Linked DNA regions of Homo sapiens. The protein of the gene in region 3 interacts with the protein of the main gene of each other region in a pairwise test. Each region holds a gene or a part of one and is shown on either strand. Other genes may lie near its edges.

Region 1 (4,617 bases), about 94 Mb from region 3:
ATGTCTGTAGTACCGGCACTTTGGGAGGCTGAGGCAGGAGGATTGTTTGAGGCCAGGATTTCAAGATGAGCCTGTGTAACATAGAGAGACCCCCATATCTACAAATTATAAAATAAAATTAGTTGGGCATGGAGGCATGTGCTCATATCCTCAGCTACTCCATCGGCTGGGCAGAAGGATTGCTTGAGCCCAGGAGTTCGAGGCTGCATTGAGCTATGATTGCACTACTACACTCTAGCCTAGGTGACAGAGTGAGACTCTGACTCAAAAAAAAAAAAAAAAAAAAAAAAGGGAGAGAGAGAGAAAGAGACAAGCTGAGAGGAGGAAGGTAGGGTGGGAGGTGTGCTGCAATGCCACAGAGACAGCTGGGCTGATCAGAACAGACGCCTAAGGGAGAGAAAAGTGCAAGGTCCAGGTACAAGCTCCACTATGGCCAGTCCCTGCCCTCAGCTCTGACAGGATACAGAAGAGCAGAACCCCCAGAAGCTGCCTTGCGATTTTTCCCTGCACAAAAGGAAAATGTGGGGTACTTTCTGCAGCCTAAGAAGTAGCCAAAGCAGGAAAAGGGATGCTCATGTATCCCCAGACTTGTCTGTTCCTAGAACTTTCTGTTACCTAGTTTAGTCATGGCCTTATAGTTTCTCTTCATATACACATAGCTGATTTTCTCCGAGTATTTCATCTTTTTCCACTCTTTCTTAGAGAAGTATGTGGCAATATCATCAAAGGCCTAAAAAAAATAAAATAAAATTTGTCAGTGACTCAGCTAGGTATGTCTGCCATTCAGCTGGAGCCGCTTCCTGTGTGCTGGATCTGGGAAGTGAGGATGATAATCCGTCCTGGTTGATGCCATGGCTAACTGAGAGACCATGGGGGACCTACCCTAGCTTCTCCCGTGGCACACATTAGGGCTTTAATGCTGCTGTCTGGCTCTCTTCCCACCTTCCAGAATGGACTGAGAGTTACCAAATGTAGAGCAAGGTCAGAGACTTGTCTCCAGGGATGCTAGGTGATGACAGAACACAGGTGGGAGGCTCCCAAGGGTCCAGATCTCCCCCGAGACCCTGCTCCTTGTCCCCAGTACCTCTGTCCTCCCCTCCTCAGAAACCTGGTCACCCTACTCTGTCCCCTGGACCACTGCTCTGCCCCCTCCAGGTCACGTCACCTTGCTTCTCTTCTCTGATGCTTTAGCATCATCCCTGGGTCTCTTTGCAAAGGTGTCGTCTCCGTTCATGGCACCAGGAGCAGTCTCACCTGCAAGAGAAACAGCCTGAGACTTTCTAGCTACAGGACCCTTGGTCCTATGGAGGGAGAAATCAGTGAAGCCCGGCCACACTCAGTCACCTGGAATTAGGGGTTGCATTTCTCCATTCGGGGCTTACCTGTCCATGGGTAAGGACATGGAGAGAAGTCAGATGAAAACAGGGAGCCTGGAGTCTCTGGGAGAAGTATTGCTTGGGGATGACAGGTTTCCTAGCAGCCTTGAGTCTTTGGGAGGGGGTTGGCTAGTGTTGTTAGTAGTTTCCCTGGGGCTAGGCTTACCCTGAAAGATGTACAGACCCTTGCTGGGGAGGCAGGGACGTGACTGTGTAATTTTATTGAATGGGGGCGTTCTGACACCCCCACTCAATAAATAAAGGGAGGGAAGTGAGTCCCAGACATAACGTGGTCTTTCTGGTGATGGATCTGATCAGGCAGAGGGATGGGGGGGTTCTGTTCTGTTGAAGAGAAATGACCTTCACTAATATGAACAGATTTAGAAGCTATTACTGGGTTATTTGTAAATTATTAGAAGGAAGAGAGCTAGAATCTCTGAGATTACAAGAGCCTGCCATCACTTAGAGAAAATGTGGGGTGTTTCAATTTGCAGCAATCGGCCAGGCGCAGTGGCTCATGCCTGTAATCCCAGCATTTTGGGAGGCCGAGGCGTGCAGATCTCTTGAGCCCAGGAGGTTGAGACCAGCCTGGGAAACATAGCAAACCCCTCATCTCTACAAAAAAAAAAAAAAAAAAAAAAAAACAACCACACAAAAAATTAGCTGGGGGCGGTGGCACAGGCCTATAACATCTCAGCTCTTTGGCCAAGGGGGGGCGGATCGCTTGAGCCCACGAGGTTGATACCAGCCTAGCCAACCTAGAAAAACCCTCTACTAAAAAAAATAAAATAAAATAAAAAGTATTAGTGGGGGCGGGGTGGTGCTCGCCTGTAGTTCCGAGGCCGAGGCAAGAGGATCTCTTGAGCCCAGGAGGTTGAGGCCAGCCTGGCCAACATAGCAAAACCCCATTTCTACTACTAATAATAACAACAAAAATAATAACATCAGCGAGGTGGTTCTTGCCTGTAGTTCCGAGGCCGAGGTGGGAGGATCACTTGAGCCGAGGAGGTCAAGCCCAGTTCGGCCAACATAAGGAAACCCTGTCTCTACTAAAAAGAACAACAACAACAAAACTAGCAGGGGCGGAATGGCACACATCTGTAGTCCTGAGGCCAAGGTGTGAGGATCGCTTGAGCCCAGGAGGTTGAGGCCAGCCTGGCCAACATAGTGAAACCTGGTTTCTACTAAAAAAAAAAAAAAAAAAAGCATGGGCAGGATGGTGCACTTCTGTAGTCCCAGGGCCGAGGCGGAAGGATTGCTTAAGCCCAGGCGGCAGAGGCCAGCCTGGCCAACATAGCAAAACCGTCTGTACTAAAAAAATAAAAAATAAAAAAAATTAGTGAGGGTGGGGTGGTTCGTGCCTGTAGTCCCGAGGCCAAGGCGGGAGGATTGCTTGAGCCCAGGCGGTTGAGGCCAGCCTGGTCAACATAACAAATCCCCGTCTCTACTAAAAAAAAAAAAAAAAAAACAGGGGTGGGATAATACAGGCCTGTAGACCCAAGGCCGAGGCGGGAGGATCCTCCATGATGATCGTCCTGAAAGGCATTAGTTGTCTTTCAGTCCTCAAGATTTTCGGAACCCCAAGCACTTGACGGCCCTACAGAGGCTTCCTCCTTTTCTATCTGCCCCGATTAGCCCATCTAGGGTGTCCCTTAAAGAGAACCTACTTCAGAGACAAAGCAGTGGTTGCGAGGTCGGCAGCAGTGGTGGCGAGTTGGCAGCAGTTGGTGACAAAGTGTGGCTGGAGGAGGAGAAAATATTCTGCAATGTCATTGCTCCAGGATGATGGACCAATCAGGGCAGTTAGTGAACTCCATCTGGCCAATCAGAAGTCAGAACAGTAGGCGGGACAAGCCAAGCTGATGTGGGGTCTATCAGTCTAGGCTCTAGGGACAGAACCTTCTCAAAATGGAGGCAGAAACTCTGACTTTCCCGCCTAAAGCATCCCCTGGGATTGGCTACTCCAAGTTCAGAGTACGCATGCTCTGATTTTCTCTTTGGAGTCTTCCCAAATCAGAGTACGCATGCGCTGATTTTCTCTTTTCATTTTTCCTATCCCTCCCCACCTCCTCGGTGGTGCATTGTTATCCAGTTTTAATAAGGAGTGTATATGAAGCAGGTCATCATCTCAAATCCTTCCTGTCAGTTTCTATCTTTTTCAGGTATGGGATTTTTTCCTAGGAACTCTGTAGTGACGTAAGAAATTTGGGCCGGTGCGGCGGCTCACGGTTGTAATCCCAGCACTTAGGGAGGCCACAGCTGGAGGATCACTTGAACCTGGGAGGCAGAGGTTGCAGTGAGCCATGATCATGCCACTGCACCCCACCCTGGGCAACAGAGCAATACCCTGTCTCTTTTCTCTACAAAAAAAATAAATAAAATTAGCGAGGTGGGGTGGTGTGCCTGTAGTCCGTTACTCAGGAGGCTGAGGTAGGAGGATAGCTTGAGCCCAGGAGTACGAGGTTGCAGTGAGCCATGATCTGGCTACTCCTGCCTACCTGGGCCACAGAGCGAGATCTTGTCTTTAAAAAGAGAGAGAGAGAGAAAGAGAAAGAAAGAAAAATTTCAATGAGCCAGTCCCAGTGGCTCATGCCTGTAATCCCAACACTTTGAGAGGCTGAGGCAGGAGGTGGAAGGATCACTTGAGGCCAGGAGTTCCAGAACAATCTGGGATACATAGTGAGACCCCCATCTCTATAAAAAATTTTTAAAAAAGAAATTTAAACAAAAAAAAACACTTCTACACTTCCATATATGTTTTTTTCTAAAAGACCAAAGAAGCAGAAATATATTTTACCCATTGATATTAATAATATTTATAATAATAGTATTAAAAAGAGTATGTAATTAGGGCCCACTGTGTTCATCAGGGAGCTCATAAGTCAATTTGTCTAAGAAGTTTCCCCTACCCCCATCCCTAGTACCTCCAACAAGTCCCCATTCCTCTCTGGGCTTTCCACCTACAGCCCTGATCTCTCTAAGATCCTCCCAGGATTACAGCAAGCTCTCTTAGGGCAGGAACAGAGCAATGGCCCTTGAGCCCAGCACAAAGCCTTTTATGTGCATCTTCCCATTAATTTTCACAACCTTCTCTGGAGTTAAATACTATTATCATCCCCAGTATGCAGATGTTGAGACTGAGGCTCAAGAGAATTAAGCAGTCTGCTCAAAGTCACATAGTCAGTGGGTGACAGAGCTGGGATTCACCCCCAAGATAGAATTGAGTCCAAAGTCTGTGCTT
Region 2 (3,905 bases), about 90 Mb from region 3:
GCTGGCTTCTTGGGCATGATCTTTATAATGTGAAGATCACAGATAAATAGTATCAGTGACATATCTATAGTGCTTTTGAGCTTACAAAGGGTCTTCACATGCATTAGCTTATTCAATGTTCTCAACAACACTGGGAGAGTTACACAGGCCTAAATTAGGAGAAACCTGGGAGGGGAGGTTAGAAGGGAAAGGAATGGCCTAAGTGAATATGGTTTCCAGGGATAGAATGCTTATCTTCCCACTCTTTTAGGACTGACATTCTTGCAAACAGCAAAAATCTCCATGTAATTGAGAGTGTGATATACAGATGATTTGGAGAAGAGTAGCATTCTAAGAATTCACAAGGTCTACAAAGGGAAGAGGTTCTGTAAAATACAAGGGATCCCATATAAGCTTCTAGACAGCTGCTGGGAGAGTAAATGTAAAAACATAGGGAGGCGACAAAACACTGCTGGGAAAGATGGTGTGGGGAGATGAATACAGGGAAGGGAGAGGGAAAGAAATGGTTTGCCGAAATTAATCTAGGCAGCAAACAAAGCAGTACCAGATATGACATACTACCCTACTGGGGCACCGACATTCAATGTGGAATTCAGTGAGGTGGTACCCATACCAATTCTGGTTGCATTGGGATGTGTCACTGACCAACAATCTTAAGCTACTTTTTTTTTTCTTTCTTTCTTTCTTTTTTTTTTTTTTTTTTTTTTTTTTTGAGACGGAGTCTCACTGTGTCGCCAGACTGGGGTGCCGTGGCATGATATCGGCTCAAGGCAACATCCGACTCCCGCGTTTAAGCGATTCTCCTTCCTTAGCCTCCAGAGTATCTGGGACTACAGGCAGGCACTACCACGCCCCGCTAAGTTTTGTATTTTTAGTAGAGACACGGTTTCACCATGTTGGGCAGGATGGTCTCGATCTCTTGACCTCGTGATCTGCCCGCCTCAGCCTCCCAAAGTGCTGGGATTACAGTCGTGAGCCACCGCGCCCGGCTCTTAAGCTACTTTTCATTCAGCTTCCTCCCTTATGAAATAGTGAACCATACATGTCAAATAGCCTACAGTAAAGTCCTCTCTGAGCTTGTAAACACTGTTTAAATGTCGTAATAATAACAATTAATACCTTTCACAATCCTTCTTTGAATTCAGTCTCCACACTGGCAACCCAACTCCCAGATCCCTTTACCCTCCAAACCAGAGTTGAATCTGCACTTGTGGGATCACTCATTCAGGGGCCTCCGAGGGATCCCCTGGGCTGGGACTGGGCCTTCCCAGATGCCCCAGGTGCAGACAAGGCACTCAAGGAGCTCACAGTAGGGAGGGGCCAACAATCAAAGTGATTCCTAAGCCATGCAAGTGGCCCCAGCAACACAGCAGAGACCAGATGGTCCTTCCTGTTGAGAGAGTGGGTGTCTCATTGGAAGCACCAGCAGGCCCTATGGGGTGAAGCCCTAGTGAGCAACATCTGAACTTCATAGACAAATGCAAATGTGAATGAGCTTTAAATGGCTTGGAGCTCTGGATTAGACTACCACTGCCACTGCGCCCCAGGAAAATTCTTTAACATCTCTGTACCACGATAGCCTCATTTTATTATTATGTTGCTGATAACTATGATCTAAAACATGAACTATAATTCTTTACTTCCATTTCATGGACCAGGAATCTGGAGCTCAGAGAACTTAGAAGATTTGTGTCAAGTCACATGGCTTTCATATGGATGAAAACTGAAGTGTGTGACTCATTATTATTTGGAGATAATAGAAACAATGTCTTCTTAAGGATTAAATAAATTAATCCATGTGAACTGCTTGAAATAGTATCTGGCATCACTATGAAAACAAAAGAAGTATTAACAATCGCAACTGTTGGTACTATCAAGCCGTCGGTGCGACATCAGGTGTTGTGATAGACATGGGGAGAAGAAGGCAGTGAGGGCATTTTTGATATTCTCCCACTCTTACCAGTGTTCGCATCCGTGGAGGGACAAAGGTTCTCTGGTCCTTTAGATCTGAGAGACACTCACCTTCGGGGAGATTCCCTGGAGCCTGCCGAAAGTCATCTGAGGACGTTCAACTGAAAGAGAATACATCAGAATTTTTCTTTGTTGGTAAAGGTTTCCAAACTCTAGAGAGACTTCTGTCGCATCAGGGTATTCTGCAGCAGAGGGTTATGAGTCCACTCATTGTTGAGGAGTTATTTCAGATTTGCTTCTGAATTATGTTTAGTCATGGTTGGTGCATTTATCTGTGGCATCAATTCAGAATTTTCCATCTCATGGTTTATCACATGGGGACTACACCCCATCACAGTCTCATCTTATTCCATTACATATCTTTTACTTTTTCCCAAATAATTAAATTGATTGGTTAGGAATCTGAACTGTATCCACTCAAGATGTGCAACAACTGAAAATCATTGTACACTTCAAATGGGTGAATCTTATGGTATGTGAATTAAGCTGTTAAATGTGTGATGAACCATGGATGATTTGGTCCAGTGGCTCTGAAATATTTTCAGTATAAAGACACTCCTTTACTGTCAAAACTTGGCAGATACTCAAGCACTGGCTTTTCAGGTCTCTTATAGTGATTGCGGGAGATTGTAGAATCTGGCCTGTTTAGTTGGCGAGTAATAGGTCTATTGGAGACGGTTTGGACATTCTGACCTTGTCTTATAATTATGTTGTCAGAGTAGAAGAGCAAGTAAATACATATGTCCCCTTTATATTCCTGAAATGTACAAAGCTCTCTACCCAAGAACCTATCTTTTTTTCACCCTATGTTATCTCTGCTCTCTGACAAGTGGGAAAGCTCTCTGTGTGTTGGATAAGGGATCACTCCTTCAAACTCTCTTCCAAGCTCATTACGGAGAATCAGGGTTCTTTGGGAATGAGAAGACTATTTGGTTTTGATAAACCAATACAGAGAAACAGCGATCTTTATTACATAATGTGTTCATCACCCTCACTCCTAAGATACCTATCCAATACCTACATGCTGTTAATGAAACAAACTCTGGAAGTTTTTGGCGGATCTACAGTTTTAACACTTTCTTTCTTTCTTTCTTTTTTTTTTTTCACTTGTAGCATTTTTTTAGCAGTCCTTTGATTCATTAACGGTGCTTAGGAAGAACAACATGTCGTTTAAAAAAGAAATATTTCAAACACACAGAAAAGTATGGGGAATAATATTGAGTCCAGTCGGATCTCAACATTACCCCACAGCTATGTTAGGTCTGATTTATTTATTCAGAATATTAGAAAAACTGCAAATAGGCCGGGCGTGGTAGCTCACAGTTGTAATCCCAGCACTTTGGAAGGCTGAGGCGGGTGGATCACCTGAGGTCAGGAAGTTTGAGACCAGCCTGGCCAACATGGTGAAACCCCGTCTCTACCATAAATTAAAAAATGAGCTGGGTGTGGGGGCACGTGCCTGTAACCCCAGCTACTCGGGAGGCTGAGGCAGGAGAATCACTTGAACCCAGGAGGTGAAAGTTGGAGTGAGCTGAGATTGCCTTATTGCACTCTACCCTGGCCGAGAAGAGTGAAACTCCATCTCAAAAACAAAAACAAACAAAACACACTATCAACAAGTCACAGCTGAAGCTGTCTGTGCCGCACTCAGTAATCCCTGCCCGCCCTCCCTCCCTCCTCCACTTACAGCCAGTCACCTTAATTTGATGGCTTTTTATTCACATTCATGTTTGTATACATTTACCATTTACTTATTATCCATAAAATATATATTCTTCTTTTGCATGTTTTAAAATTTTATATGAATGGCCTCTGTAGTTAACTTTCTGCATGCAATTTTTTTTTTTTTTTTCACTCAGCCCTGATGTGTATGAGGGAACAAATGCCTGAGGATCTTTCTCAGGTAGCTGAGCTGAAAAGCAGCTGGGCTTGAG
Region 3 (4,536 bases):
AGATAAGTCATGCTTTTATTAGTATCCCCAATACTAACAGTGACTTCCACAAGCAAATACTAAAAGAATGTTCAGCAAATAAAGGAGTCAGTGGGGCTTTCTTTTATTAAGATTTAATTTCTGCTACTTTCTTCAACAAGCTAAGCAAAGCCAGGTATATATAATTTTCAAGAACAAAAGAATAAGCAGGACAAGGAAATGAAACTACTGACCACCCTTCAATTTTGTTCCACTATTTAACTGCTGAGTTATTGCACATTGTAAAAAAAAAAAAAAATGCCTATTACAATACCACACTACCCTGTTACAGATCACAAAATAAGGGAGAAGGTATTTCCATTTTTTTAACAAAATATCAAACTGTTACTCTTAAACCAGATAAAGAGCAATACATGTGCGACTAATATTCATAAATTAACACTCTGAAGCTAACTACCTGCTATTCAAAGGAAAAGCATTTAGAAAATACTGAAAAACAGGTAAATCTCTACATCACCCATATGGGACAGAAATGCAAAGAACACTACGTTCCTCGAGCCCCACCTGGCCCTCCACTACCTAGAACCTAAACTGCCCTGTTCAAACACAAGGGGAAGAAACTATCCTAGACTTCACTCAGAAAAGGAGACGTTGCTGGACATGACACTGAGGCTTTCACTGGCCATGACAGTGGCATCATCTGCGGTATCAATTGTGGCCTGGACTCTCTCTTCCACATCTTTCAAAGCATCCTTGTACCAGGATGGAAAGGAACTAGGAACAGTGTTGTTCAGCTTGGCTAAAAACTCTAGTACTTTCTTCTTGATGCTTTCTGAATGGGCTCTCGGACCCCACAGGAATTCATAATATGGAGGAGAACTGTGGGGCACCTCCCGATACTCCAGGTAATGTCCCTGCACCCAAACTTTAGTGAGGAGCTCCCTAGGCTCCCCATAGACGAAGTGCTCCCTCCCAGCATATACCCCTACTGCATTCAGCACTTCCCAGATGACCTCCTCAGAGGCACAGTTGCCCTTTATGAAGATCACACTCAGAATAATAATCAGGAGGCTGTTCTCGGGCATGCCCTCATCATCACTACCCTCATCGGTGAGGCCTACTGTGTTTGCAAACACACAGAAGTGGTCAGGGCCCACTTCTATCAGGGCAAGGCCAAAAAGAAGCTCCATGAACTCACGGGCTCTCTTGAGTATCACAGGAAAGTAATCTTTGTACTTGATGACAATCATCAGCATCTCTGCCTCTGTTACAGGCTCCTCTGCTTCGTATTTGAGGAGCAGGAACTCCACTAACTCGGCCACCTTTTCATCTAGTGTATATGTGAAAGAGGACTCACTGTCTGGCAGGCCCTGACAGGTGCCTGTATCCTCCCCTTTCTGGCTGCTGGACTCCTCACTGAATGAGCTCCATGAAAAAGAGGAGCAGCAGGAGCTCAGAGGACTCTGGGAAGGACCCTGTGGAGGACCCTGTGGAGGACTACTGGGAATGCTCTCGGTAAGATTTGGTATCACACCAGAGGGCACCTCCTCCTCCTCAGGACCACCAAGAATCAGAGAAGAGGATGTGGAGAAAGAAGAGGGGGAAAATACTAAGTACAAAGTGGAAGAGGCGGAGGAGGCTTCCTCCTCTTCCTCATCTGTGGGATGCTGTGCATCTACCCAGTCTTCTAACTCAACTGAGGTCGGGGAGTCGTTGTCAACGTTGCGGAATGGAACGCCTGGAACGGGAGGCATGACGACTTCTTCAGGAGCAGCAGGTAAACGTATCAACAGGGATATGGATGATGAGATCCAACAGGCCTGTGGAAGAGAGTGACAGTGTGAGTGGCCTCAGCTGAGAAACTCACCCATGATGGCTCTGACAAAGGCCACCTTACAGCTCTTCTTCTCTTAAGGTGGTGCTCTAGGGCCTCACAGGTCTCCTGTCTTCCTAGGGAGTTTGTCTGCTGGGAACCTGTAGGAGGATGTGGGAACACACCTCAGGGCACAGCTGGCAGGCAGAGCCTGAGACCCCAGGAGTGACAATAGGTGGGTAGGGCCGGGTGCTGTGGGGTCTCCTCTGTTTCTGGGGGTAGGGCCCTTGGTACACAGCCAGGGTGTGCACTCACCTTGACTCCTGGCACTGCCTGGGCCTCCTCTGCTGTGCTGACTTTAGGCTGTGTGCCTCACACCCAGTTCGTCACCACCTGGTTCCTGGAGCACCTGCAAGAGGAAGTGAGGGAGCCCCTCAGGCTAAAGACTGCAAGTAGGGTCTTGGGCCTGCTAGGGCTGACAGCTGGGGCTGGCCAGAATCCCAGAGCCTCATAGTTCTGGACTGCATGGCCCCCTCAGAATTTAATTAGCAACTTCACGGCTTCTCAGAGAGGGCCGAGCCTCCACCACTCTGCTGGCCTAAGGCAAAACCTCAGAGCAACCGCCACATCCCTGAGAGCAGTGGGAGGTAGGGCGGTGGCAGCCACCTCCCAGCACTCTACCATGGGGGCAGTCGGGGTAGCCTCACGTCCGTTCTGATGCACATGTGACTCCTCAGTCTTATCCCCAGCAGGGCCTGGGAATCTTCCCTCTGCCAACCAGAGGCAGCTCCCCGTGCTGACTTGCCATGGGACCCTCAGACCAAGGCCTCCGCCTCCCCTACGCCACTCACCCAGGAATAAGATGGCTGCCACCCCGCCTGAGCTGACTGGGGAGCTCTACGAGGGCTGATACTTGAGGAGCAGGGTGGGAATCTCTGGGAATCTGCCCTCTGAGGTGGGGGTTCCCCCAGCCCTCCTCAGTGTCTTCCTATTTATTCCCTAGAGGGCCGGCACCTCCTCCCTTCTTCTGGGGCCATTTCCCTGTCTGGGACCTACCAGTCTCACGGCAGCGCAGTACAGGCCGGGGTTTCTTCTCTCTATGGTGGGAGGTCCCTCAGTTCTTCCTCAGGGCCCTCACCCTGAGGACTGGCCAGGTCTAAGACTCTTCCCCCCGCTAACTTGATTCGCGCCTCCTCACAAATGCCTTCGATCCGTCAGATTCCCAAGATGGCCGTCGGGAAAGCACATCCGGGAACCCTGCCGTGGTTGTCCAGGGCTGACGCAGCGTCAATGTGGGGCGGGGCCTCCTCTCTGAGGAGGAACCACCCCCCACCTCTCTGCTTTTTTTCCATCCCTTCCTCCCCACCTCCCAGCTGCCCTCCAACCCTTCCTGCTCACTCCCTAAGCCTTGCGGACCTCTTCACTCCCACCTCCCCAGTCCTTGACACCCCACTCTCCTTTTTCCAGGGGTGTCAGCAGGGAGTGGCTTGGTGCAGTCTGCGCCTCCCCTCCGTGTTGGGAGGTCACCGTCCTTCCACATCTCTCTTGTTTTTTGGCCAGTTCTGGGACTTCTTTCTCTGCTTAACTGAAGCTGCCCTCCTCAGAGACAACAGCCTCCCCTTCTGCTGACTCTCAAAATGGAAGTCAGAAAATTGTACATCTGGGGACCCTGATGGGGTCCTCCAGAGCTGGCAGCAGGGACAGGGGAGGGGCACTACCAGTCATGGGTGTTCCCTTCCAGCCTTCCTGAGAGGCTGTGCCTGGACTCCTGATACTGCCTGGGATGCCTGACCCTGTGCATCTGAGTCTTTCACCTCCGAATAAGCCCCTCCCATCCCTGAGACCTGCAAGGTGCAAGAGAGGGAGAATCACATCCATCCACAGTGGGATAGGGCCTCCTAGCCCTAAGGCAGGCCTCCACTGCCCTCTGAAATGGGGTGGGAATGCCCCTCTGTCTTTCTCAAGGTATGACTCCTAAAAGAGCCTATACTCCTTCCTTCTCCTGTCCAGACAGCAACATTTGTTCCTTCGACCTCTAAATTCCATTCCAAGTTTTTCCACTTTACTGCTGTGAGTGAAATTAGTGTCATCTCTCCCATACCCTGTGTTAAAGGCTTCCTTATTGTTGCTTCTTTTCCTATCCTAGTCCCTGAAAAAAACCACTGTCTTTTCAGCAACCCGTGACCCTTTAAAAAACCAATACGTGATTAAAGTTTTAAATACACACATCAGATTTAACTAGAATGTGAAGTTATATGTATTTTGGAAAATGCATGGACTCCCATATCTACCAACCAAGTATCATACTGACCAGTTCCACCTGCCTAAACTTCTCCTGTGCATCCCTTTTGAGGTCAATCACCGCACTTCTACAAAGCTCCTAGCAACTGTCTTCTGTTTTCAGTTCCTATACTTTTAACTTTTCCAATTTGTCATATGATTAGCTTCATAAAATACTGACTTAAAAGTGTGCCTGTACTATTTTTTATCACAACTAGCAAGGAATGAGAATTTCTGTTATTCTATATCCTCTCTTACATTGAGTATTTTAGATTTTCAGGTTTTAGCCATTCTCATAAGCATGTATTGGAACCTTCTTTGGTTTTTGTTTGCCTCTTCTTAATGACATATGACATTGGTCATCTTTTTATATGCTTTTTTTCCGTTTGCTATATTCCCTTTCGTAAAGTGTCTATTCAAATCATTTGCATCGTTTTATAGATGAATAAACTTCATTTTTAGAG
Region 4 (3,905 bases), on a different chromosome or scaffold from region 3:
CTGATGGGGTGGAGGAGGAAGACTGCATTGGGAGGGGGCGGGGGGTTGGGGGAACAAGATCACAGATTGGTGGTGGGAGTGAGTTTGAGAAATGAGGAAGGGTGTCTCTTATTTATTTCCTATAGTTAGGAACAAAGAAAAGATGCAGGAGGGAAGGGAGAAGATATCAAGGCACAGTAGGAAGTGGGGGTGAGCTCAGGTCTGATGGCCATGATTTTCTGAGATTACTAAGGAAGACAAAATGATAGCCAACATGAACATTTCCGAAGGCTAGGGGTCCGTACGCTGGAGTGAGCCATTCTAAGATAAATGTAGGCTCGGTTCTTTTTGTAAATGGGACTATAGCAGACATGTACTGAAACAGGGCTACTGCTAAATTGTTGAGACAGAATGCATATGTGAACTAGAGAAATATACTCTGCTCCAAGATATCTGTGGTTTGCAGACATTGCTAAGTGATTCCTATGTCAAAATTTTAATATAGTCTCATAACAGCACTTTATCTGGCTGAAACTGACTGCCTTTTTCTTCAAATACATGTTTGCTTAGCTATATATTTTGCTACATAAATTAGATATTAATTTGCAAAGCACTTGAGATCTAATTAATTATAGTAAATTTATTTCTGCTTTATCTCAACAACAGCTCCAAACAATACCCTATAGAGACCTTGGAAGAAGAATTAGAAAACAAATAGAAGAAAAGCTATTGTTTCATGAATAGTCCCTGTTTGCCTCATACCTGCACATTTCAGAGTGAAGACCTGCACATTCAAGCTCTGGTAAATTACTTCTACTGCCACCTCTTGCAAATGTACCTCAGAGAGGCCACACATTTTGAGGAAGCAAACATTCTGGACTGCTATGCAGATAGGCCCATCATGTGAAAAACTGGCTAGATACTAATGCCTGCCATTGGTTAAAAGCAGCAGGTATATTTCACAAACTTTGAATTCCTTTGCTTCTTGGTGGAGCTTCATGTATCTAGACTTTTCACTATGAAAGTTCTGAAACATACACAGAGGTAAAATGGAAAATCCAATGAACCCAGGTGGAGCTTTAGATTTTTTTTCTTTTTTAAAGACAGAATCTTGCTCTGTCACCCAGGCTGGAGTACAATGGCACAGTCTAGGCTCACTGCAACCTCTGCTTCCTGGTTCAGGCGATTCTCTTGCCTCAGCCTCCCGAGTAGCTGGGACTACAGGCGCGTGCCACCACACCAGGCTAATTTTTGTATTTTTAGTAGAGATGGGGTTTCACCATGTTGGCCAGGCTGGTCTCGATCTCCTGACCTTGTGATCCGCCTGCCTCGGGCTACCAAAGTGCTGGGATTACAGGCGTGAGCCACCACGGCCAGTCGCAAACTTATCTTCATTTAAATGAAACTCATATCCCATCAGCACGTAAACTGTTTTAAGGATGGGAAAATAGGATTCTAAATCGCAAAGGATGAGCAAACTGGTGCTACTGCCACCCGAGGTTGGTGAGCACTACTTCAGCCCACAGCTGTCTCTTTTTAGGCCTAAGAAAAAGTATTAGGAACTAAGTAATTTAAGAAGGACTTTTAATGACTGAAGCCCAACAGATTTAAGTTCTTTTGTCTCCAGGTTAAACTACCCATCCTCTTACCTTTAATTTTCTGCTTGTATTCTTCTGGTCGGTGGAGGTACATGGCTGCAGCGTCACCATTGAGAGGATCTATGGGGTTAGGATAGGCCAATAACTGAGGCAGGAAGGACTCAAATATATTGGTAAGATCTGAAAAACCAAACAAACATGTCACACATGGGAAATGCAAGTTCACCTAAAATTCACTTGCATTCAGTAGTCAAGCTGCTTACCTTCTTAGATATTCACACGGGGATGATTCTCCATACGAGTGTGCTCTATTACATGTGACTTGTATTACACATTCATTTCAATACCAATTTAAACATTTTAATTTTAATTTGAAGAACGAGATAAAGATATACCTGACATTCACTTTGAAGGACAATTTTCCCAATTCTATTTCACTCTATTTATATGGCTATTTCACACAGCCATTTTCTACAGCTTACAAAACCCCCCACTCTGAAAGGTATTCAGATGCTGGGTCTTAAAAGAATTGAAGACAGTTTTTGTGGGGTTTTTTTGTTTGTTTTTTTTTTTGAGACAGAGTCTTGCTCTATTGCCCAGGCTGGAGTGCAGTGGTGCAATCCTGACTCACTGAAACCTCTGCCTCCATGTTCAAGCGATTCTCCTGCCTCAGCCTCCCAAGTAGCTGGCACTACAGGCACCTGCCACCATGCCTGGCTAATTTTTGTATTTTTAGTAGAGACGGGGTTTCACCATGTTGGTCAGGATGGTCTCAAACTCCTAACCTCAAGTGACCTGCCAGCCTTGGCCTTCCAAAGTGCTGGGATTACAGGTGTGAACCACTGCGCTCAGCCTTGAACACAATTTTATAGGACTTGACATTTAATTCAATTCTTGCAACTTCTAATGGAGGTAAATATAACCAATTTTTCAATTATTCTGGGTAATGAGGATAGGAATCTATATGGACCACATAAGACTACAAATATTCATAAGACAGATAAGCACCAATCTACTGCATTTATTTATTTAAAAAAGTTTTTTTTTTGAGAGAGGATCTCACTCTGTTGCCCAAGTTGGAGTGCATAGGTGTGATCATACCTCACTGCAACTTCAAACTCTTGGGCTCAAGCCAACCTCCCAGCCTCAGTCTTCCAAGTAAATTGGACTATAGGCATGTGCCACCATACCCAGCTAATTTTTTTTTTTTTAAATAGAGACAGGGTCTCCTTATGCTGCCCAGGCTGGTCTTGAACTCCTGGACTCAAGAGATCCTTCCATCTTGGCCTCCCCAAGTGCTGGGATTATAGACGTGACATTTATTAACTCCTTTCTTGCCAGGCATACACAGATGATATCTACACACAGTTAGCAAACAACAAACACCTGCAGTTACCCAGCGTTTTAGAAAAGCAGGCCCTGAGAACCTGGGTATAACACAACCCACACACCCCATAGCTCAGATATGCTGTAACTTCCACACTCTGCTCCTCAGTGAACTGCAGCACCCCTGAGAAATGGAAGGACATGAGAATGCTTCCATGTCTCTGCCCCACTCCAGCTGCTTTGTCATGTTTTATATAAAACATTCCTGTTTCTGGAGACAATGCTGAAGTATACTAAGTAGCATAAAAAACTACTCATTAATTTAGTCAGCTCTTTCAACCAATTTTGCTTTTAACAATGGGCGCTCCTTTGCAGTATTACAGATGAATGCTTTGCCAAGCCACATTGCTTGAGATTTGTGGTTCTCAGCCAAGGGTGATTTTGCTCCCCATGGAATTTGGCAATGTCTAGAGACATTTTTGGTTGTCATATCTAAGCGGTGCTACTGGCATCCGGTGGGTGAAGGCCAGGGAAGCTGCTAAACACCACAATGCACAGGACAGCCCCACAACAAAGGATTATCTAGACCAAAATGTCAGCAGTGCTGAGGTTAAGAAACCCTGATCTAGATAAAAGCGGTAGGCAAACCTTTTTGTAAAGGGTCAAATACTTTTAGGCTTTGCAGGCCACATATGGTCTCTGTCATAACTACTCAAAACTCAGCTCTGCCACTGTAACACAAAAGCAGCCAAAGTATAGGTCAACAAATCGATGTGGCTGTATTCCTATAAAACTACATATACAAAAACAAGTACCCAAGGTCTGCCCAACTTTGCTCTAGAAAATCTTACCTATAAGAGGTGGCTCTTATCACTGTAAGGTTAAGAAGCTGAGCAGTTAGAGACTAATCTAGAGCTGTGTTACTCAACCGAACTTTCTGCAGTGATAAAAATGTTTTATATGTGCTCACCTAAACCAATAGCCACTAGCCATAAGTGGCTA
Region 5 (3,905 bases), on a different chromosome or scaffold from region 3:
CTGCACTCCAGCCTGGGTAACAGTAAGACTGTGTCTCAAAAAAAAGAAATAAGAAAAAATTCACTGGGACAAGGCCAAAATAAGGGTGACAAATTAGAGATAAATTGCTTTTTTTTGGGAAACAGAGTCTCTGTCACCCAGGCTGGAGTACAGTGGTATGATCAAGGCTCACTGCAAACTTCACCACCCAGGTTCAAGTGATCCTCCCGCCTCAGCCTCCTGAGTAGCTAGGACCACAGGCACATGCCACCATAGCCGGCTAATTTTTTTTTTTGAGATGGAATTTCCATCTTGTCGCCCAGGCTAGAAAGCAATAGCACGATCTCAGGCAATCTCCGCCTCTCGGGTTCAAGCGATTCTTCTGCCTCTGCCTCCCGAGTAGCTGTGATTAAGGCACCTGCCACCACACCTGGCTAATTTTTTGTATTTTTAGTAGAGACAGGGTTTCACCATGTTGGCCAGGCTGGTCTTGAACTATTGACCTCAGGTGATCTGCCCGCCTCAGCCTCACAAAGTGCTGGGATTACAAATGTGAGCCACCGCGCCTGGCCTTTTTTTTTTTTTTTTGAGACAGAGTTTCACTCTTGTTGCCCAGGCTGGAGTGCAATGGCATGATCTCGGCTCAGTGCAACCTCCACCTCCTGGGTACAAGCGATTTTCCTGCCTCAACCTCCTGAGTGGCTGGGATTACAGGTGCCTGCCACCATGCCCAGCTAATTTTTTGTATTTTTAGTAGAAACGGGTTTTCCCCATATTGGCCAGGCTGGTCTCAAACTCTTGGCCTCAGGTGATCCGCCCGCTTTGGCGGCCTTGGCTTCCCAAAGTGCTGGGATTACAGGCGTGAGCCACCGCGCCCAGCCAACACCTGGCTAATTTTGTAGAGACAGGGTCTCACTATGTTACCCAGGCTGGTCTTGAACTCCTGGGCTCAAGCGATCCTTCTGCTTCAACCTCCCAAATTGTTAAAGTAATTACAGGCATGAGGCACTGCACCTGGCCCAGAGATTACTTTTTATGGCTAAAAAATAACAATATATTATTACACTCAGCATTACTATTAATATATTATTACAGGCCGGGCGTGGTGGCTCACGCCTGTAATCCCAGCACTTTGGGAGGCCAAGGCGGGCAGATCACAAGGTCAAGAGATCGAGACCATCCTGGCCAACATGGTGAAACCCCATCTCTATTAAAAGTATAAAAATTAGCTGGGCGTGGTGGTGGGCGCCTGTAGTCCCAGCTACTCGGGAGGCTGAGGCAGGATAATCACTTGAACCCAGGAGGCAGAGGTTGCAGTGAGCTGAGATCACGCCACTGCACTCCAGCCTGGGTGACAAAGCGAGACGCTGTCTCAAAAAAAAATAAAAAAAATAAAAAATATGTATATATATTATTACATATTATTACATCTGTAGAATACTTTGTTTACCAAGCACTCATATCCATCATCAAATCTGAGCTTCATGTAAGCCATGAGGTAAATTCACAGGAGGTAATAGATGTCATTACCCTCATTTAAAAATCAGGAAAAGATGCTCAAAAAGACTAAATGATTTGTCCATTTTTGCAAAGGTATTAAATGACAAAGCAGGGATAAAATTCCAAGACCCCAGTATCCTTTCCACTAAACTACATTGACTACTGGCACCTAAGTTCACAAATCCCAAAGGCTCTCCAGTTTACATAAAAGACTATGTATATATATTTTTTCTTTCTTTTTTGAGACACACTCTTGCTGTGTCACCCAGGCTGGAGTATACTGGTGCGATCTTGGCTCACTGCGACCTCCGCCTTCCGGGTTCAAGCAATTCTCGTGCCTCAGCCTCCTGAGTAGCTGGGACTACAGGTGTGCACCATTACACCTGGCTAATTTTTGGTATTTTTAGTAGAGATGGCGTTTCTCCATGTTGCCCAGGCTGGTCTCAAACTCCTGAGCTCAGGCAATCCACCCAACTTGGCCTCCCAAAATGTTGGGATTACAGGCATGAGCCACTGCACCCGGCCGAAAGACATTATATTTCTGATAGAACATTCAAGGTACGTAATAGGAGCTGTGAGGAGGGAAAAACAAATTCCAATTCTATTTATATTTCATTAATCACTCTAGGGATAGTGAGTAGGGAGAAAAACAACTTTACCTCTGATAGTCTTCCAAAGCCATTCCCTCCTTGAAAGTGGGATAGAAAGGAACAGAGTAAGGACACTTCTTATGTAGATGAGCAAGAATGAGGTCCCCCACTCTGGGGTGGAGCTCCCAGATCCCGGATGCCACAACTGCAATGGGGAATGCTGCTTCATGGTGAGAGGCCACTTCCTCCTCGCCTTGTTTCTGAGAACATAGAGGTGGGTACAATTTTAACTTAATACCAGAAAAAGGCTGAAATCTTGTACACCAGCCTCTGCTTCCCATACCTCTAGCAACAAGGTTTCTCACCACAAATTTCTCTGCCAGTTTGTATTGAACAAAGTCCAGCCCCTGTGGGTTAAGTGTGACAGACACAGAGCGCCCACCAGATTGAACAGGTTTTCCAGAGAGCAGGCTGTGGATCTTGTCAAAGATCTCCTTCAGTTTTGAGCCTGAGCATGATAGAGAGAAATTAAAAGATATAACCACAGATCAATCTCTTTTTCTTTTCCTTTTTTTTTTTTTTTTTTTTTTTTTGAGACAGTATCACTCTACTGCCCAGGCTGGAGTGCAGTGGCACAATCTTGGCTCACTGCAACCTCCGTCTCCCGAGTTGAAGCAATTCTCTGCCTCAGCCTCCTGAGTAGCTGGGATCACAGACGCCCGCCACCACACTGGGCTAAGTTTTGTATTTTTTTTTTTTTGTAGAGATGGGATTTCACCATGTTGGCCAGGCTGGTCTCTAACTGCTGACCTCAAGTGATCCGCCCGCTTTGGCCTCCCAAAGTGCTGGGATTACAGGCGTGAGCCACCATGCCCAGCCTGTTTCATCATTGTAATTACAAAGCATCTACAAAAACCCAGCTGTGCTGCCCTACAGAAATGAAGGGATAAACAGTATCCCTTACTGTACACATAAAATGAAGGGATAAACAGTATAGAAAGAGGTGTTACATTTTGTTACAGACCCCATGGACTGTGGTTGGTATCTCTAGAGGAGTTAGTCACATCTCTAGGAAAAACCTTCTAAAGGATCTAACCAGCTCATGATGATATGCCCCCTTCTCAGGACTTGCCTTCTTCCGTCCTCAGAGACACAGAAGTGGATTCGTAACAGCTATATTTGTACCAAAGATTTTGTGTGCTCCACCCCCACACTAGCTACAGTTAGATTAGAGGCAGTCAAGCTGAGCCAGTCAGTCAACTAAGAGTCACTTCCTTGAGGTAGCTGGCCCTGTGTCACATACACTCACAAGCAGTGGGGGCTGCGTACCTGCCATGAAGACCAAAGAACGGCAATCTATAAAATAAGAATGGAGATGTAGAGAGGACAGATGAGATGAGAGAGGAAAAAAGAACTAAAGTTTCTAGCTCCTGAGACCTCACCTCATTCCTGCCACTGGGTTCTGTAGGATATTTCTTTATCTTTCCAATAAATGCTTTTTTTTTTTTGCTTAAGCAGATCTGGGCCAGCACTTTGGGAGGCCAAGGCAGGCAGATCACTTGTGGTCAGGAGTTCGAGACCAGCCTGACCAACATGGTGATACCTCGTCTCTACTAAAAATGCAAAAATTAGCCAGGTGTGGTGGCGGGTGCCTGTAATCCCAGCTACTCGGGGAGGCTGAGGCAGGAGAATCGTTTGAACCCAGGAAGCGCAGGTTACAGTGAGCCGAGATTGTGCCACTGCACTCCAGCCTGGGTGACAAAGCAAGACTCCATCTCCTCCCTAAAAAAAAAAAAAAAAAAAAAAAAAAAGCAAAGCAGATCTGAATTACTTTCC
Region 6 (3,905 bases), on a different chromosome or scaffold from region 3:
TGGCTAACACAGTGAAACCCTGTCTCTATTAAAAATACAAAAAATTAGCCAGACGTGGTGGCCCGTGCCTGTAATCCCAGCTACTCGGAAGGCTGAGGCAGGAGAATGGTGTGAACCTGGGAGGCGGAGCTTGCCGTGAGCTGAGATCGCGCCACTGCACTCCAGCCTGGGCAACAGAGCGAGATTCCATCTCAAAAAATAAAAATAATAAATACATAAATAAATAAATAAGCCAGGTGTGGTGCCATGCACCTGTAGTCCTAGCTACTCAAGAGGATGAGGCAGGAGGATCATTTGAGCCCAGGAGTTTATGATTGTGCCACTGATATTACATGGGTTAAAAAATTTTTTTAAAGTAAATGAACGGAAAAATGCACACTATCAAATAGTAAGCACAAGAAATCTGACAGTGCCAAATTATTATCAGACAGAATCTTCAGGAAAAAGCATATTACAAGAGACAAAGAGGGCCATTTCATAATGATAAAAGGAGAAATGTATTAGGAAGGCATAACAATCCCAAATATGTACCCAACAAGAGAGTTCCAAAATGCATAAAGTATGACAAAACTTACAAGAAAAACTGACAAATCTATAATCATAGTGGAGTAATTCATAAGATGAGTAGATAAAATAAATTAATAAAGATACAGAAGATCTGGTAATGCTATCAACCAAGATGGGTATGGTAATATGTACCACGTTTATAACTTATACTACACTACACCCAACAACCACAGAATGTATATTCTTTTCAAATGTACACTGATTGTTCACAAAGACAGGCCATATGCTGGACCATAAGCAAGCTTTCAGAAAACTTCAAAAGACTGAAATTTTATAGAGTATATCCTCTTATCACAACAGAAAATTATAAAATAATATATCTAGAATGTTCCTGTTCTAAATCTTCCACCTAAAATAAGTGCCTTTTCCTAATTTTCTACCCAGAGGGGGCTCTGTTTCCCAATTTGCACAAAGGTACTGAATAAGATCAGTATATTAAATGAGTTAACACCACTTATTATTCTTATCAACAAATAAATTCAAACTTAATCTGATAAAACTTTTAAACATAACTAACAATTTAGAGGAAATACTGAGAACAGAAGAACATATTTAACAATATCACAGAGATGCAATAAGCAAAATTCGGACTCTTCAGGATAAACTATCCAGTAACATCAGTAAATGAGAGAGAAATAGGAGAACAGAAAAAAAAGGGAAAAAAAGAAAGAGAAAGATGTTAAGTAACTATCACAAAACATTGCCTTTATATATCAAGATGGTAGGTACTTGATTTTGCTTATCTTGTACTTTGCGTCTCGTGCGTGATGAAAAAAGTAGATTTAGCACATAAAATTTCCAGAGACAGGTTTTGCCAAGAATGGTTGGGATAGAAATTAATTTTTTTTTAAGATGGAGTCTTGCTCTGTAGCCTAGGCTGGAGTGCAGTGGTGTGATCTCGGCTCACTGCAACCTCTGCCTCCCAGGTTCAAGTGATTCTCCTGCCTTAGCCTCCCCAAGTACCTGGGATTACATGCCCATGCCACCACACCCAGCTAATTATTGTATTTTTAGTAGAGACGGGGTTTCACTATGTTGGCCAGGATGGTCTCGAACTCCTGACCTCAGGTGATCCACCCGCCTCAGCCTCCCAAAGTGCTGGGATTACAGGCGTAAGCCACTGCACCCAGACAGAAATTAAATTATTAAAGGCTGTAGTTAAATGAGAATTAGATACCACTGCCTCCATCTAATTCTATATGCCTTCAGAATGGAAGGCCCATTTCTTGAAATAGGTGGCCTGATAAAGAAAAAAAATTACCATTTTCTGTAATTGAGACAATGTTCATCCTTGAACAGAAAAAATTAAAAAAAGAACATGAAATCCAATCTTCTTCTATATGCATACAATCAATTCATTTGTGCATTTGCTAGATTAAATTGATAAGTAGGGAAATATGCTTCTTCAATTGCTAGCAGCTAAGAGACAAAGGTATTTAATAATGTTTCACCTCTTTTCTCTCCTCTCTGCTCCTGTATTTTCTCCCATAAGTAAAACTCCTAGTTAATTTTTCCATAACCCTATAGTTCCTCTTTTATGAAGCACTACTCCTACTCACTTTATCACTTGCCTCCAAAAAGTCTTTGCTACTTGAGGACATGAAAAAAAAAAAAATAAGTTAATAAAATCCTGCGGAAGCCAGCCTTCAAGATAGCCCAATGATATTCACACTCTTGGTATTCACACTCTTGTGTGTACTCTCCCACATTATAACACTACAAAACACCAGAGGTGATGGTATATCACTTCTATCATTAGGTTTTAAAAGGCTCTACAGCTTCCAGTTCCCTTCCTCCCTCCCTTTCTCTCTTCTCCCATCCATCTCTCCAATCTTCCTTACCTCCGCTCATATCACTAGTTCTGGGAGAAGCCACGTCATAAGTAGCCCTATGGAAGAGTCCATGGGGAGGAACTGAAGCCTCCTGACAAGAGCCACATGAGTGACCTTGGAAACAGATACTCCAGGCCCAGTCAAATCTAGACTGCAGTCCTAGCCAACAACTTGATTACAACATCCTAAGACCGAGCCAGAATCATTCAGCAAAATAATACCTGCTCTTCTCAGACTAACAAGCATATTATAAAAATGCCTATATTCAATCCCATGAAATATATGCCATAAAAACTCAACAAACTATCAAAAAATTTTTCATTAAGAGCCAAAATGAGGCTGGACACGGTGGCTCACGCCTGTAATCTCAGCACTTTGGGATGCCAAAGCGGGTGGATCACCTGAGGTCGGGAGTTCAAGACCAGCCTGACCAACATGGAGAAACCCCATCTCTACTAAAACTACAAAATTAGCCAGAGGTAGTGGCGCATGTCTGTAATCCCAGCTACTCGGAAGGCTGAGACAGGAGAACTGCTTGAACCCGGGAGGCAGAGGTTGTGGTGAGCTATCACGCCATTGCACTCCAGCCTGGGCAACAAGAGCAAAACTCCATCTCAGGCCGGGCGCAGTGGCTCACACCTGTAATCCCAGCACTTTGGGAGGATCGAGGCGGCTGGATCACGAAGTCAGTAGTTCGAGACCAGCCTGGCCAACATAGTGAAACCCCGTCTCTACTAAAAATACAAAAATTAGCCGGGCATGGTGGCATGCGACTGTAGTCCCAGCTACTCGGGAGTCTGAGGCAGGAGAATCACTTGAACCTGGGAGGTGGAGGTTGCAGTGAGCCTAGATCATGCCACGGCACTCCAGCTTGTGTGACAGAGCAAAACTTCGTCTCAAAAAAAAAAAAAAAAAAAATCCAAGATGTTTTTCTTATCAGAAAAGCATCTGATAAGATGCTTTTAAACATCTTTTAAAATGCAAGATTTTAAAAAATAATATTAGCCAATATAGGCAAAGTTGTGTGGCAATAGGAATCTCCATACAGTTGTTGGTAACATAATTGACAAGATCTTTTTTTTTTTTTTTTTGTAAGATAGGGTTTCCCTCCTGGCTAACACGCTGAAACCCCGTCTCTACTAAAAATACAAAAAAATTAGCCGGGCGTGGTAGCGGGCGCCTGTAGTCCCAGCTACTCGGGAGGCTGAGGCAGGACAATGGCGTGAACCCGGGAGGCGGAGCTTGCAGTGAGCCGAGATTGCGCCACTGCACTCTAGCCTGGGCGACAGAGCGAGACTCCTTCTCAAAAAAAAAAAAAAAGGATAGGGTTTCCCTATGTTGTCCAAGTTGGTCTCGAACCCTCCCTCCTCAGCCTCCCAAGTAGCTAGGATTACAGGTAGGAACAACCATGCCTGTCTTGACATAATCTTTTTTGAGAACAACTGGGCCATATTTATCAAATTTAAAAGCCACAAACTCTGACCCAACAATTCTACTACTGGACAT
Region 7 (3,905 bases), on a different chromosome or scaffold from region 3:
CTGTGTTGTTCAAGTCCCTCTATCTCTTGGCCTTCAGTGGAGCTCCACTTCCCATCCTAATCCACTGCCCATACCAAGGTCATATTTAGATTTACACACTGTCAGCCTCTTTCAGGGTAGAAACCTTGTCTTGTATTTCTTTACATCTCCTACAGTGCCTATCAAAAATGCTGTCTGAAATTCGCAAAATTCCTGGAGATTTTTGCGCTGAGTACCAGATAAAATCAATACGTGAAATTGCTTTGAAAACAATAAAATAAAGTAGAGCTATAGTCAGTCATGAAGTAAGAAGCCCAGAGCAATACTCACATAGATCATAAATGTTGCAACTCGGTTTCCTGACTTCATTCTGTAGAGGGGGCTGCTTGGTGACTGAGAAAAAAAAAAACAGAACATATTATTTTATGCAGATGGCACCAGAGGGACAGGCAGGATTCCACTATTAATACAAATAGAAGTAAAATGGGGGCATCAAAGATGGGATATAGTTCTGATATACACCTACTGGAGTATGTGCCCGTCTTTGCTGGCAGGTACTCAATACAATTTTTTTTTTTACTAATTTATTAGATACTTATATAAAAGAATTGTCTACTACCAAACAGAACTACTTGTCAGTAGTGAAAGTACTATATGAGGGGTTAATTGCACCTTTGAGTTCTCTGTGAAATATAGAAATTAATATATAAAATATTACAGACAATTATTCTGTAGAAATACCAAATCATAAGGCCAGAGTTCCAATTACTTGCTGAAGAGACATACTCTTTTTTTTTTGTCATGGAACAGTTTGAGATATGATTTATATTCCATAAAATTCACCCCTTGTAAGCCTACTGTTCAATGAGTTTTCCCACAATTGAAGTTTAGAACACAGAACACTTCCATCTGCTGAAAAGCTCCTTCATGCCAGTTAGGAGTCAATCCCTGCTCTCACCTCCAACCTCAGGCAACCCACTTATCTGCTTTCTCTCTATAGCATTCCATTGTGCAGATATATCAAAATTTGTTTATCCGTTCACCTGTTGACAGACATCTGGGCTGTTTCCAATTCTTGGTTTTTTTTTTGTTTTTTTTTTTTTGTTTTTGAGATGGAGTCTCACTCTGTTGCCCAGGCTGGAGTGCAGTGGCGTGATCTCAGCTCACTGCAACCTCTGCCTCCCAGGTTCATGCCATTCTCCTGCCTCAGCCTCCCAAGTAGCTGGGACTACAGGCGCCTGCCACCATGCCCAGCTAATTTTTTTTTTTTTTGTATTTTTAGTAGAGACGGGGTTTCACTGTGTTAGCCAGGATGGTCTCGATCTTCTGACCTCGTGATCCGCCTGCCTTGGCCTCCCAAAGTGCTGGGATTACAGGCATGAGCCACCGTGCCCAGCCCCAATTCTTGGTTATTACAAATAAAGCTACTATAAACTTTTCTGTACAAATGTTTGTAGAGACATATTTTCTTTTTCTTTTGGGTAATATACATAGGTGTGAAATGGCTGGATCATAAGTAGGTGAATCTTAAACTTTTTAAGAAACCATCAAACTTTTTTCCAAAGTGTCTGTATAATTTTGCATTCCCACTAGCAGTGTATGAGAGCTTCAGTTCCTCCACATCCTCACCACCACTTGGTATAATCTTATTTTATTGTAGCCATCATAAGAGAGTGCAGTGCTATCTCATTGTGGTTTTAATTTGCATTTCCCTAATGATGTTGAGCATCTTTCCATATGTTTCTTAGCCATTCATTTATCCTTTTTGGAGAGGTGCCTACTCAAATAACTTTCTGTCCATTAAAAAAAATTGAATTATCTTATTACTGAGTTATAAAAGTTCTATAGATATTTTGGATACAAGTTCTTTACCAAATATATGATTTGCAAATATTTTCTCCTAGTTGGTGGCTTGTCTTTTCCTTTTCTAATGATGTTTTTTGAAAAGCAAAGAATTTTAATTTGATAAGGTCCAATTTATCAGTTGTTTTCTTCTTTTATGGATCATACTTTGGTGTCATATCTAAGAAATCTTTGCCTAACCTGTGGTCACAAAAATTTTCTCTTATGTTTTCTTCTAGAAGTTTTATAGTTTTACATTTACATCTATGACCCATTTTGTGTTAATTTTCATATATGGTGTAAGGTAAGGGTGTAAAGTCATTATTATTTTGCAGATAGATATTAAATTGTTCCAATACTGTCTATTGAAAAGATTGTATTTTCTTCATTGAATTTCCTTGGCACCTTTGTCAAAACCAATTGATCATAAATGTGTTGGTTTGTTTCTGGACTCTGTTCTGTTCCATTGACATATGTGTCTCTCCTTACACTGGTACCACACTGCCTTGATTCCTGTAGCTCTATATTAAGTTTTGAGATCAGATAGTGTATGTCCTCCAATTTGTTCTTCTTTTTCAAAATTGTTTTGGCTGCTCTAGGTTTTTTGCATTTCCATATACATTTTAGGATCAGCATGCTAATTTCTACAAAAATAAACCTCCTGGAATTTTTATAAAGCTGGGGTTCAATTTATAGATCAATTTTGGGGAGGTCATTTTAATCCTCAAAAATCACTACTGGGTATCTACCCAAAGGAAAATAAAGTATTATATTACAGAAAAAACACCTGCACCCAGATATTTATTGCAGCACTATTCACAACAGCAAAGTCATGGAACCAACCTAAATGTCCATCGATGGTTGATTTGATAAAGAAAATAAGGTATATATACATAACAGAATACTATCCAGCCATAAAAAGAATGAAATAATTTCCTCTGCAGCAACATGGATGGAGCTGGAGGCCATTATCCTAAGTGAACTAACTCAAAAGCAGAAGATAAGATATTGCATGTCCTCACTTATAAGTGGGGGCTAAACAATGGGTACACATGGACATAAAGATGGAGGTAACAAACACTGGAAACTGCAAAATGGGGGAGGGTGAAAGGGGAGTGAGAGTTCAAAAATTACGTGTCAGGTAAAACATTCAATAGTTGGGTGATGGGTACACTAGAAGTGTGGTCCCCACCATTACACATGCAATACCCATATAACAAGTATGGCTGGGTGCAGTGGCTCACTCCTGTAATGTCAGCACTTTGGGAGACTGAGGTGGGAGGATCGCTTGAGCCCAGGAGCTCAAGACAAGCCTGGGCAACATAGCAGGACCTTGTCTCTACAAAAAAAATTTTTTTAAATTAGCCAGGTGTAGTCCTAGAGCTACTTGGGAGGCTGAGATGGGGGGATCACTTAGCCCAGGAGTTCAAGACTGCAGTGAGCTATGATGGTGCCACTACACTGCAGCCTGGGCAACAGAGCAAGATGCTGCCTATAAAGAAAAAAATAAATACATAAATAAATACGTAAATAAAAAACAAGCACATGTACCCCATGAATCTAAAATTTTAAAAAAATTATTTGCTATTATCAGCAAAGATGGCCAGTTGAGATCATGAGGCTAGAAGAGTTACTGGAGGAAGGACAATCCTCACTAGGAAGTCCCTGAGTGGAGCAGTCCGATGATTCCATGACAAGCCACATTCTTCCCTCACCAGCAAATTTTAGAAGGGAGATGGTGGCAGACAAGAAAATGAGTCAGCAACAATATGCTTGAAACTAAGGCTTTCAGATATTTCTGGAAAAAGAACCTTTGTTCTAAGATTTCACTTAGTATTCCCTGAGAGCCTACAAGAGCTCTGCCTCAGAGAAATAAATAATGCCCTGGCTCCCTACCCCAGGGGATTGGTCATTGACTCCACCATTACCGTAGCATGGTCAAAGTGAGGCTCATAGTGTCCTCCGATGCCATAGTTCACCACCTGCAGATACTCTGCATAGGGAGGCCGGACATCAAGGCCTGTGAGGGCAGCAATGCGGTGGTTGAGGGTCACCAGTTTTGGGTCAACAGTGTCCTTCAGCCA

The links.
Region 1: the proteins of MAGEC2 (region 3) and SSX1 interact in binary tests that used the Homo sapiens proteins (3 or more experiments, as listed by UniProt).
Region 2: the proteins of MAGEC2 (region 3) and SSX2 interact in binary tests that used the Homo sapiens proteins (3 or more experiments, as listed by UniProt).
Region 4: the proteins of MAGEC2 (region 3) and UBE2H interact in binary tests that used the Homo sapiens proteins (3 or more experiments, as listed by UniProt).
Region 5: the proteins of MAGEC2 (region 3) and GLE1 interact in binary tests that used the Homo sapiens proteins (3 or more experiments, as listed by UniProt).
Region 6: the proteins of MAGEC2 (region 3) and MNAT1 interact in a two-hybrid assay, tested with the Homo sapiens proteins (one study listed by BioGRID).
Region 7: the proteins of MAGEC2 (region 3) and P4HA3 interact in binary tests that used the Homo sapiens proteins (3 or more experiments, as listed by UniProt).

Annotation. Positions count from the first base shown.
Region 1 is NC_000023.11:48,253,859-48,258,475, reverse strand, and holds the start of SSX1 (protein SSX1), read right to left. Parts: upstream 3,085-4,617; 5' UTR 3,044-3,084; intron 2,426-3,043; exon of another isoform or gene 2,340-2,425; intron 1,255-2,339; 5' UTR 1,235-1,254; coding exon 1,166-1,234; intron 731-1,165; coding exon 616-730; intron 1-615. UniProt on the Homo sapiens protein: Could act as a modulator of transcription. Plays a role in spermatogenesis.
Region 2 is NC_000023.11:52,700,559-52,704,463, forward strand, and holds part of SSX2 (protein SSX2), read right to left. Parts: intron 2,073-3,905; coding exon 2,023-2,072; intron 21-2,022; coding exon 1-20.
Region 3 is NC_000023.11:142,202,255-142,206,790, forward strand, and holds MAGEC2 (melanoma-associated antigen C2), read right to left. Parts: upstream 3,037-4,536; 5' UTR 2,849-3,036; intron 2,202-2,848; 5' UTR 2,108-2,201; intron 1,800-2,107; 5' UTR 1,734-1,799; coding exon 612-1,733; 3' UTR 88-611; downstream 1-87. UniProt on the Homo sapiens protein: Proposed to enhance ubiquitin ligase activity of RING-type zinc finger-containing E3 ubiquitin-protein ligases.
Region 4 is NC_000007.14:129,837,579-129,841,483, forward strand, and holds part of UBE2H (ubiquitin-conjugating enzyme E2 H), read right to left. Parts: intron 1,758-3,905; coding exon 1,629-1,757; intron 1-1,628. UniProt on the Homo sapiens protein: Accepts ubiquitin from the E1 complex and catalyzes its covalent attachment to other proteins. E2 ubiquitin conjugating enzyme that transfers ubiquitin to MAEA, a core component of the CTLH E3 ubiquitin-protein ligase complex.
Region 5 is NC_000009.12:128,532,185-128,536,089, reverse strand, and holds part of GLE1 (mRNA export factor GLE1), read right to left. Parts: intron 3,426-3,905; coding exon of another isoform or gene 3,399-3,425; intron 2,578-3,398; coding exon 2,435-2,577; intron 2,330-2,434; coding exon 2,139-2,329; intron 1-2,138. UniProt on the Homo sapiens protein: Required for the export of mRNAs containing poly(A) tails from the nucleus into the cytoplasm. May be involved in the terminal step of the mRNA transport through the nuclear pore complex (NPC).
Region 6 is NC_000014.9:60,737,666-60,741,570, reverse strand, and holds part of MNAT1 (CDK-activating kinase assembly factor MAT1), read right to left. Parts: intron 1-3,905.
Region 7 is NC_000011.10:74,273,236-74,277,140, forward strand, and holds part of P4HA3 (prolyl 4-hydroxylase subunit alpha-3 isoform 1 precursor), read right to left. Parts: coding exon 3,750-3,905; intron 373-3,749; coding exon 310-372; intron 1-309. UniProt on the Homo sapiens protein: Catalyzes the post-translational formation of 4-hydroxyproline in -Xaa-Pro-Gly- sequences in collagens and other proteins.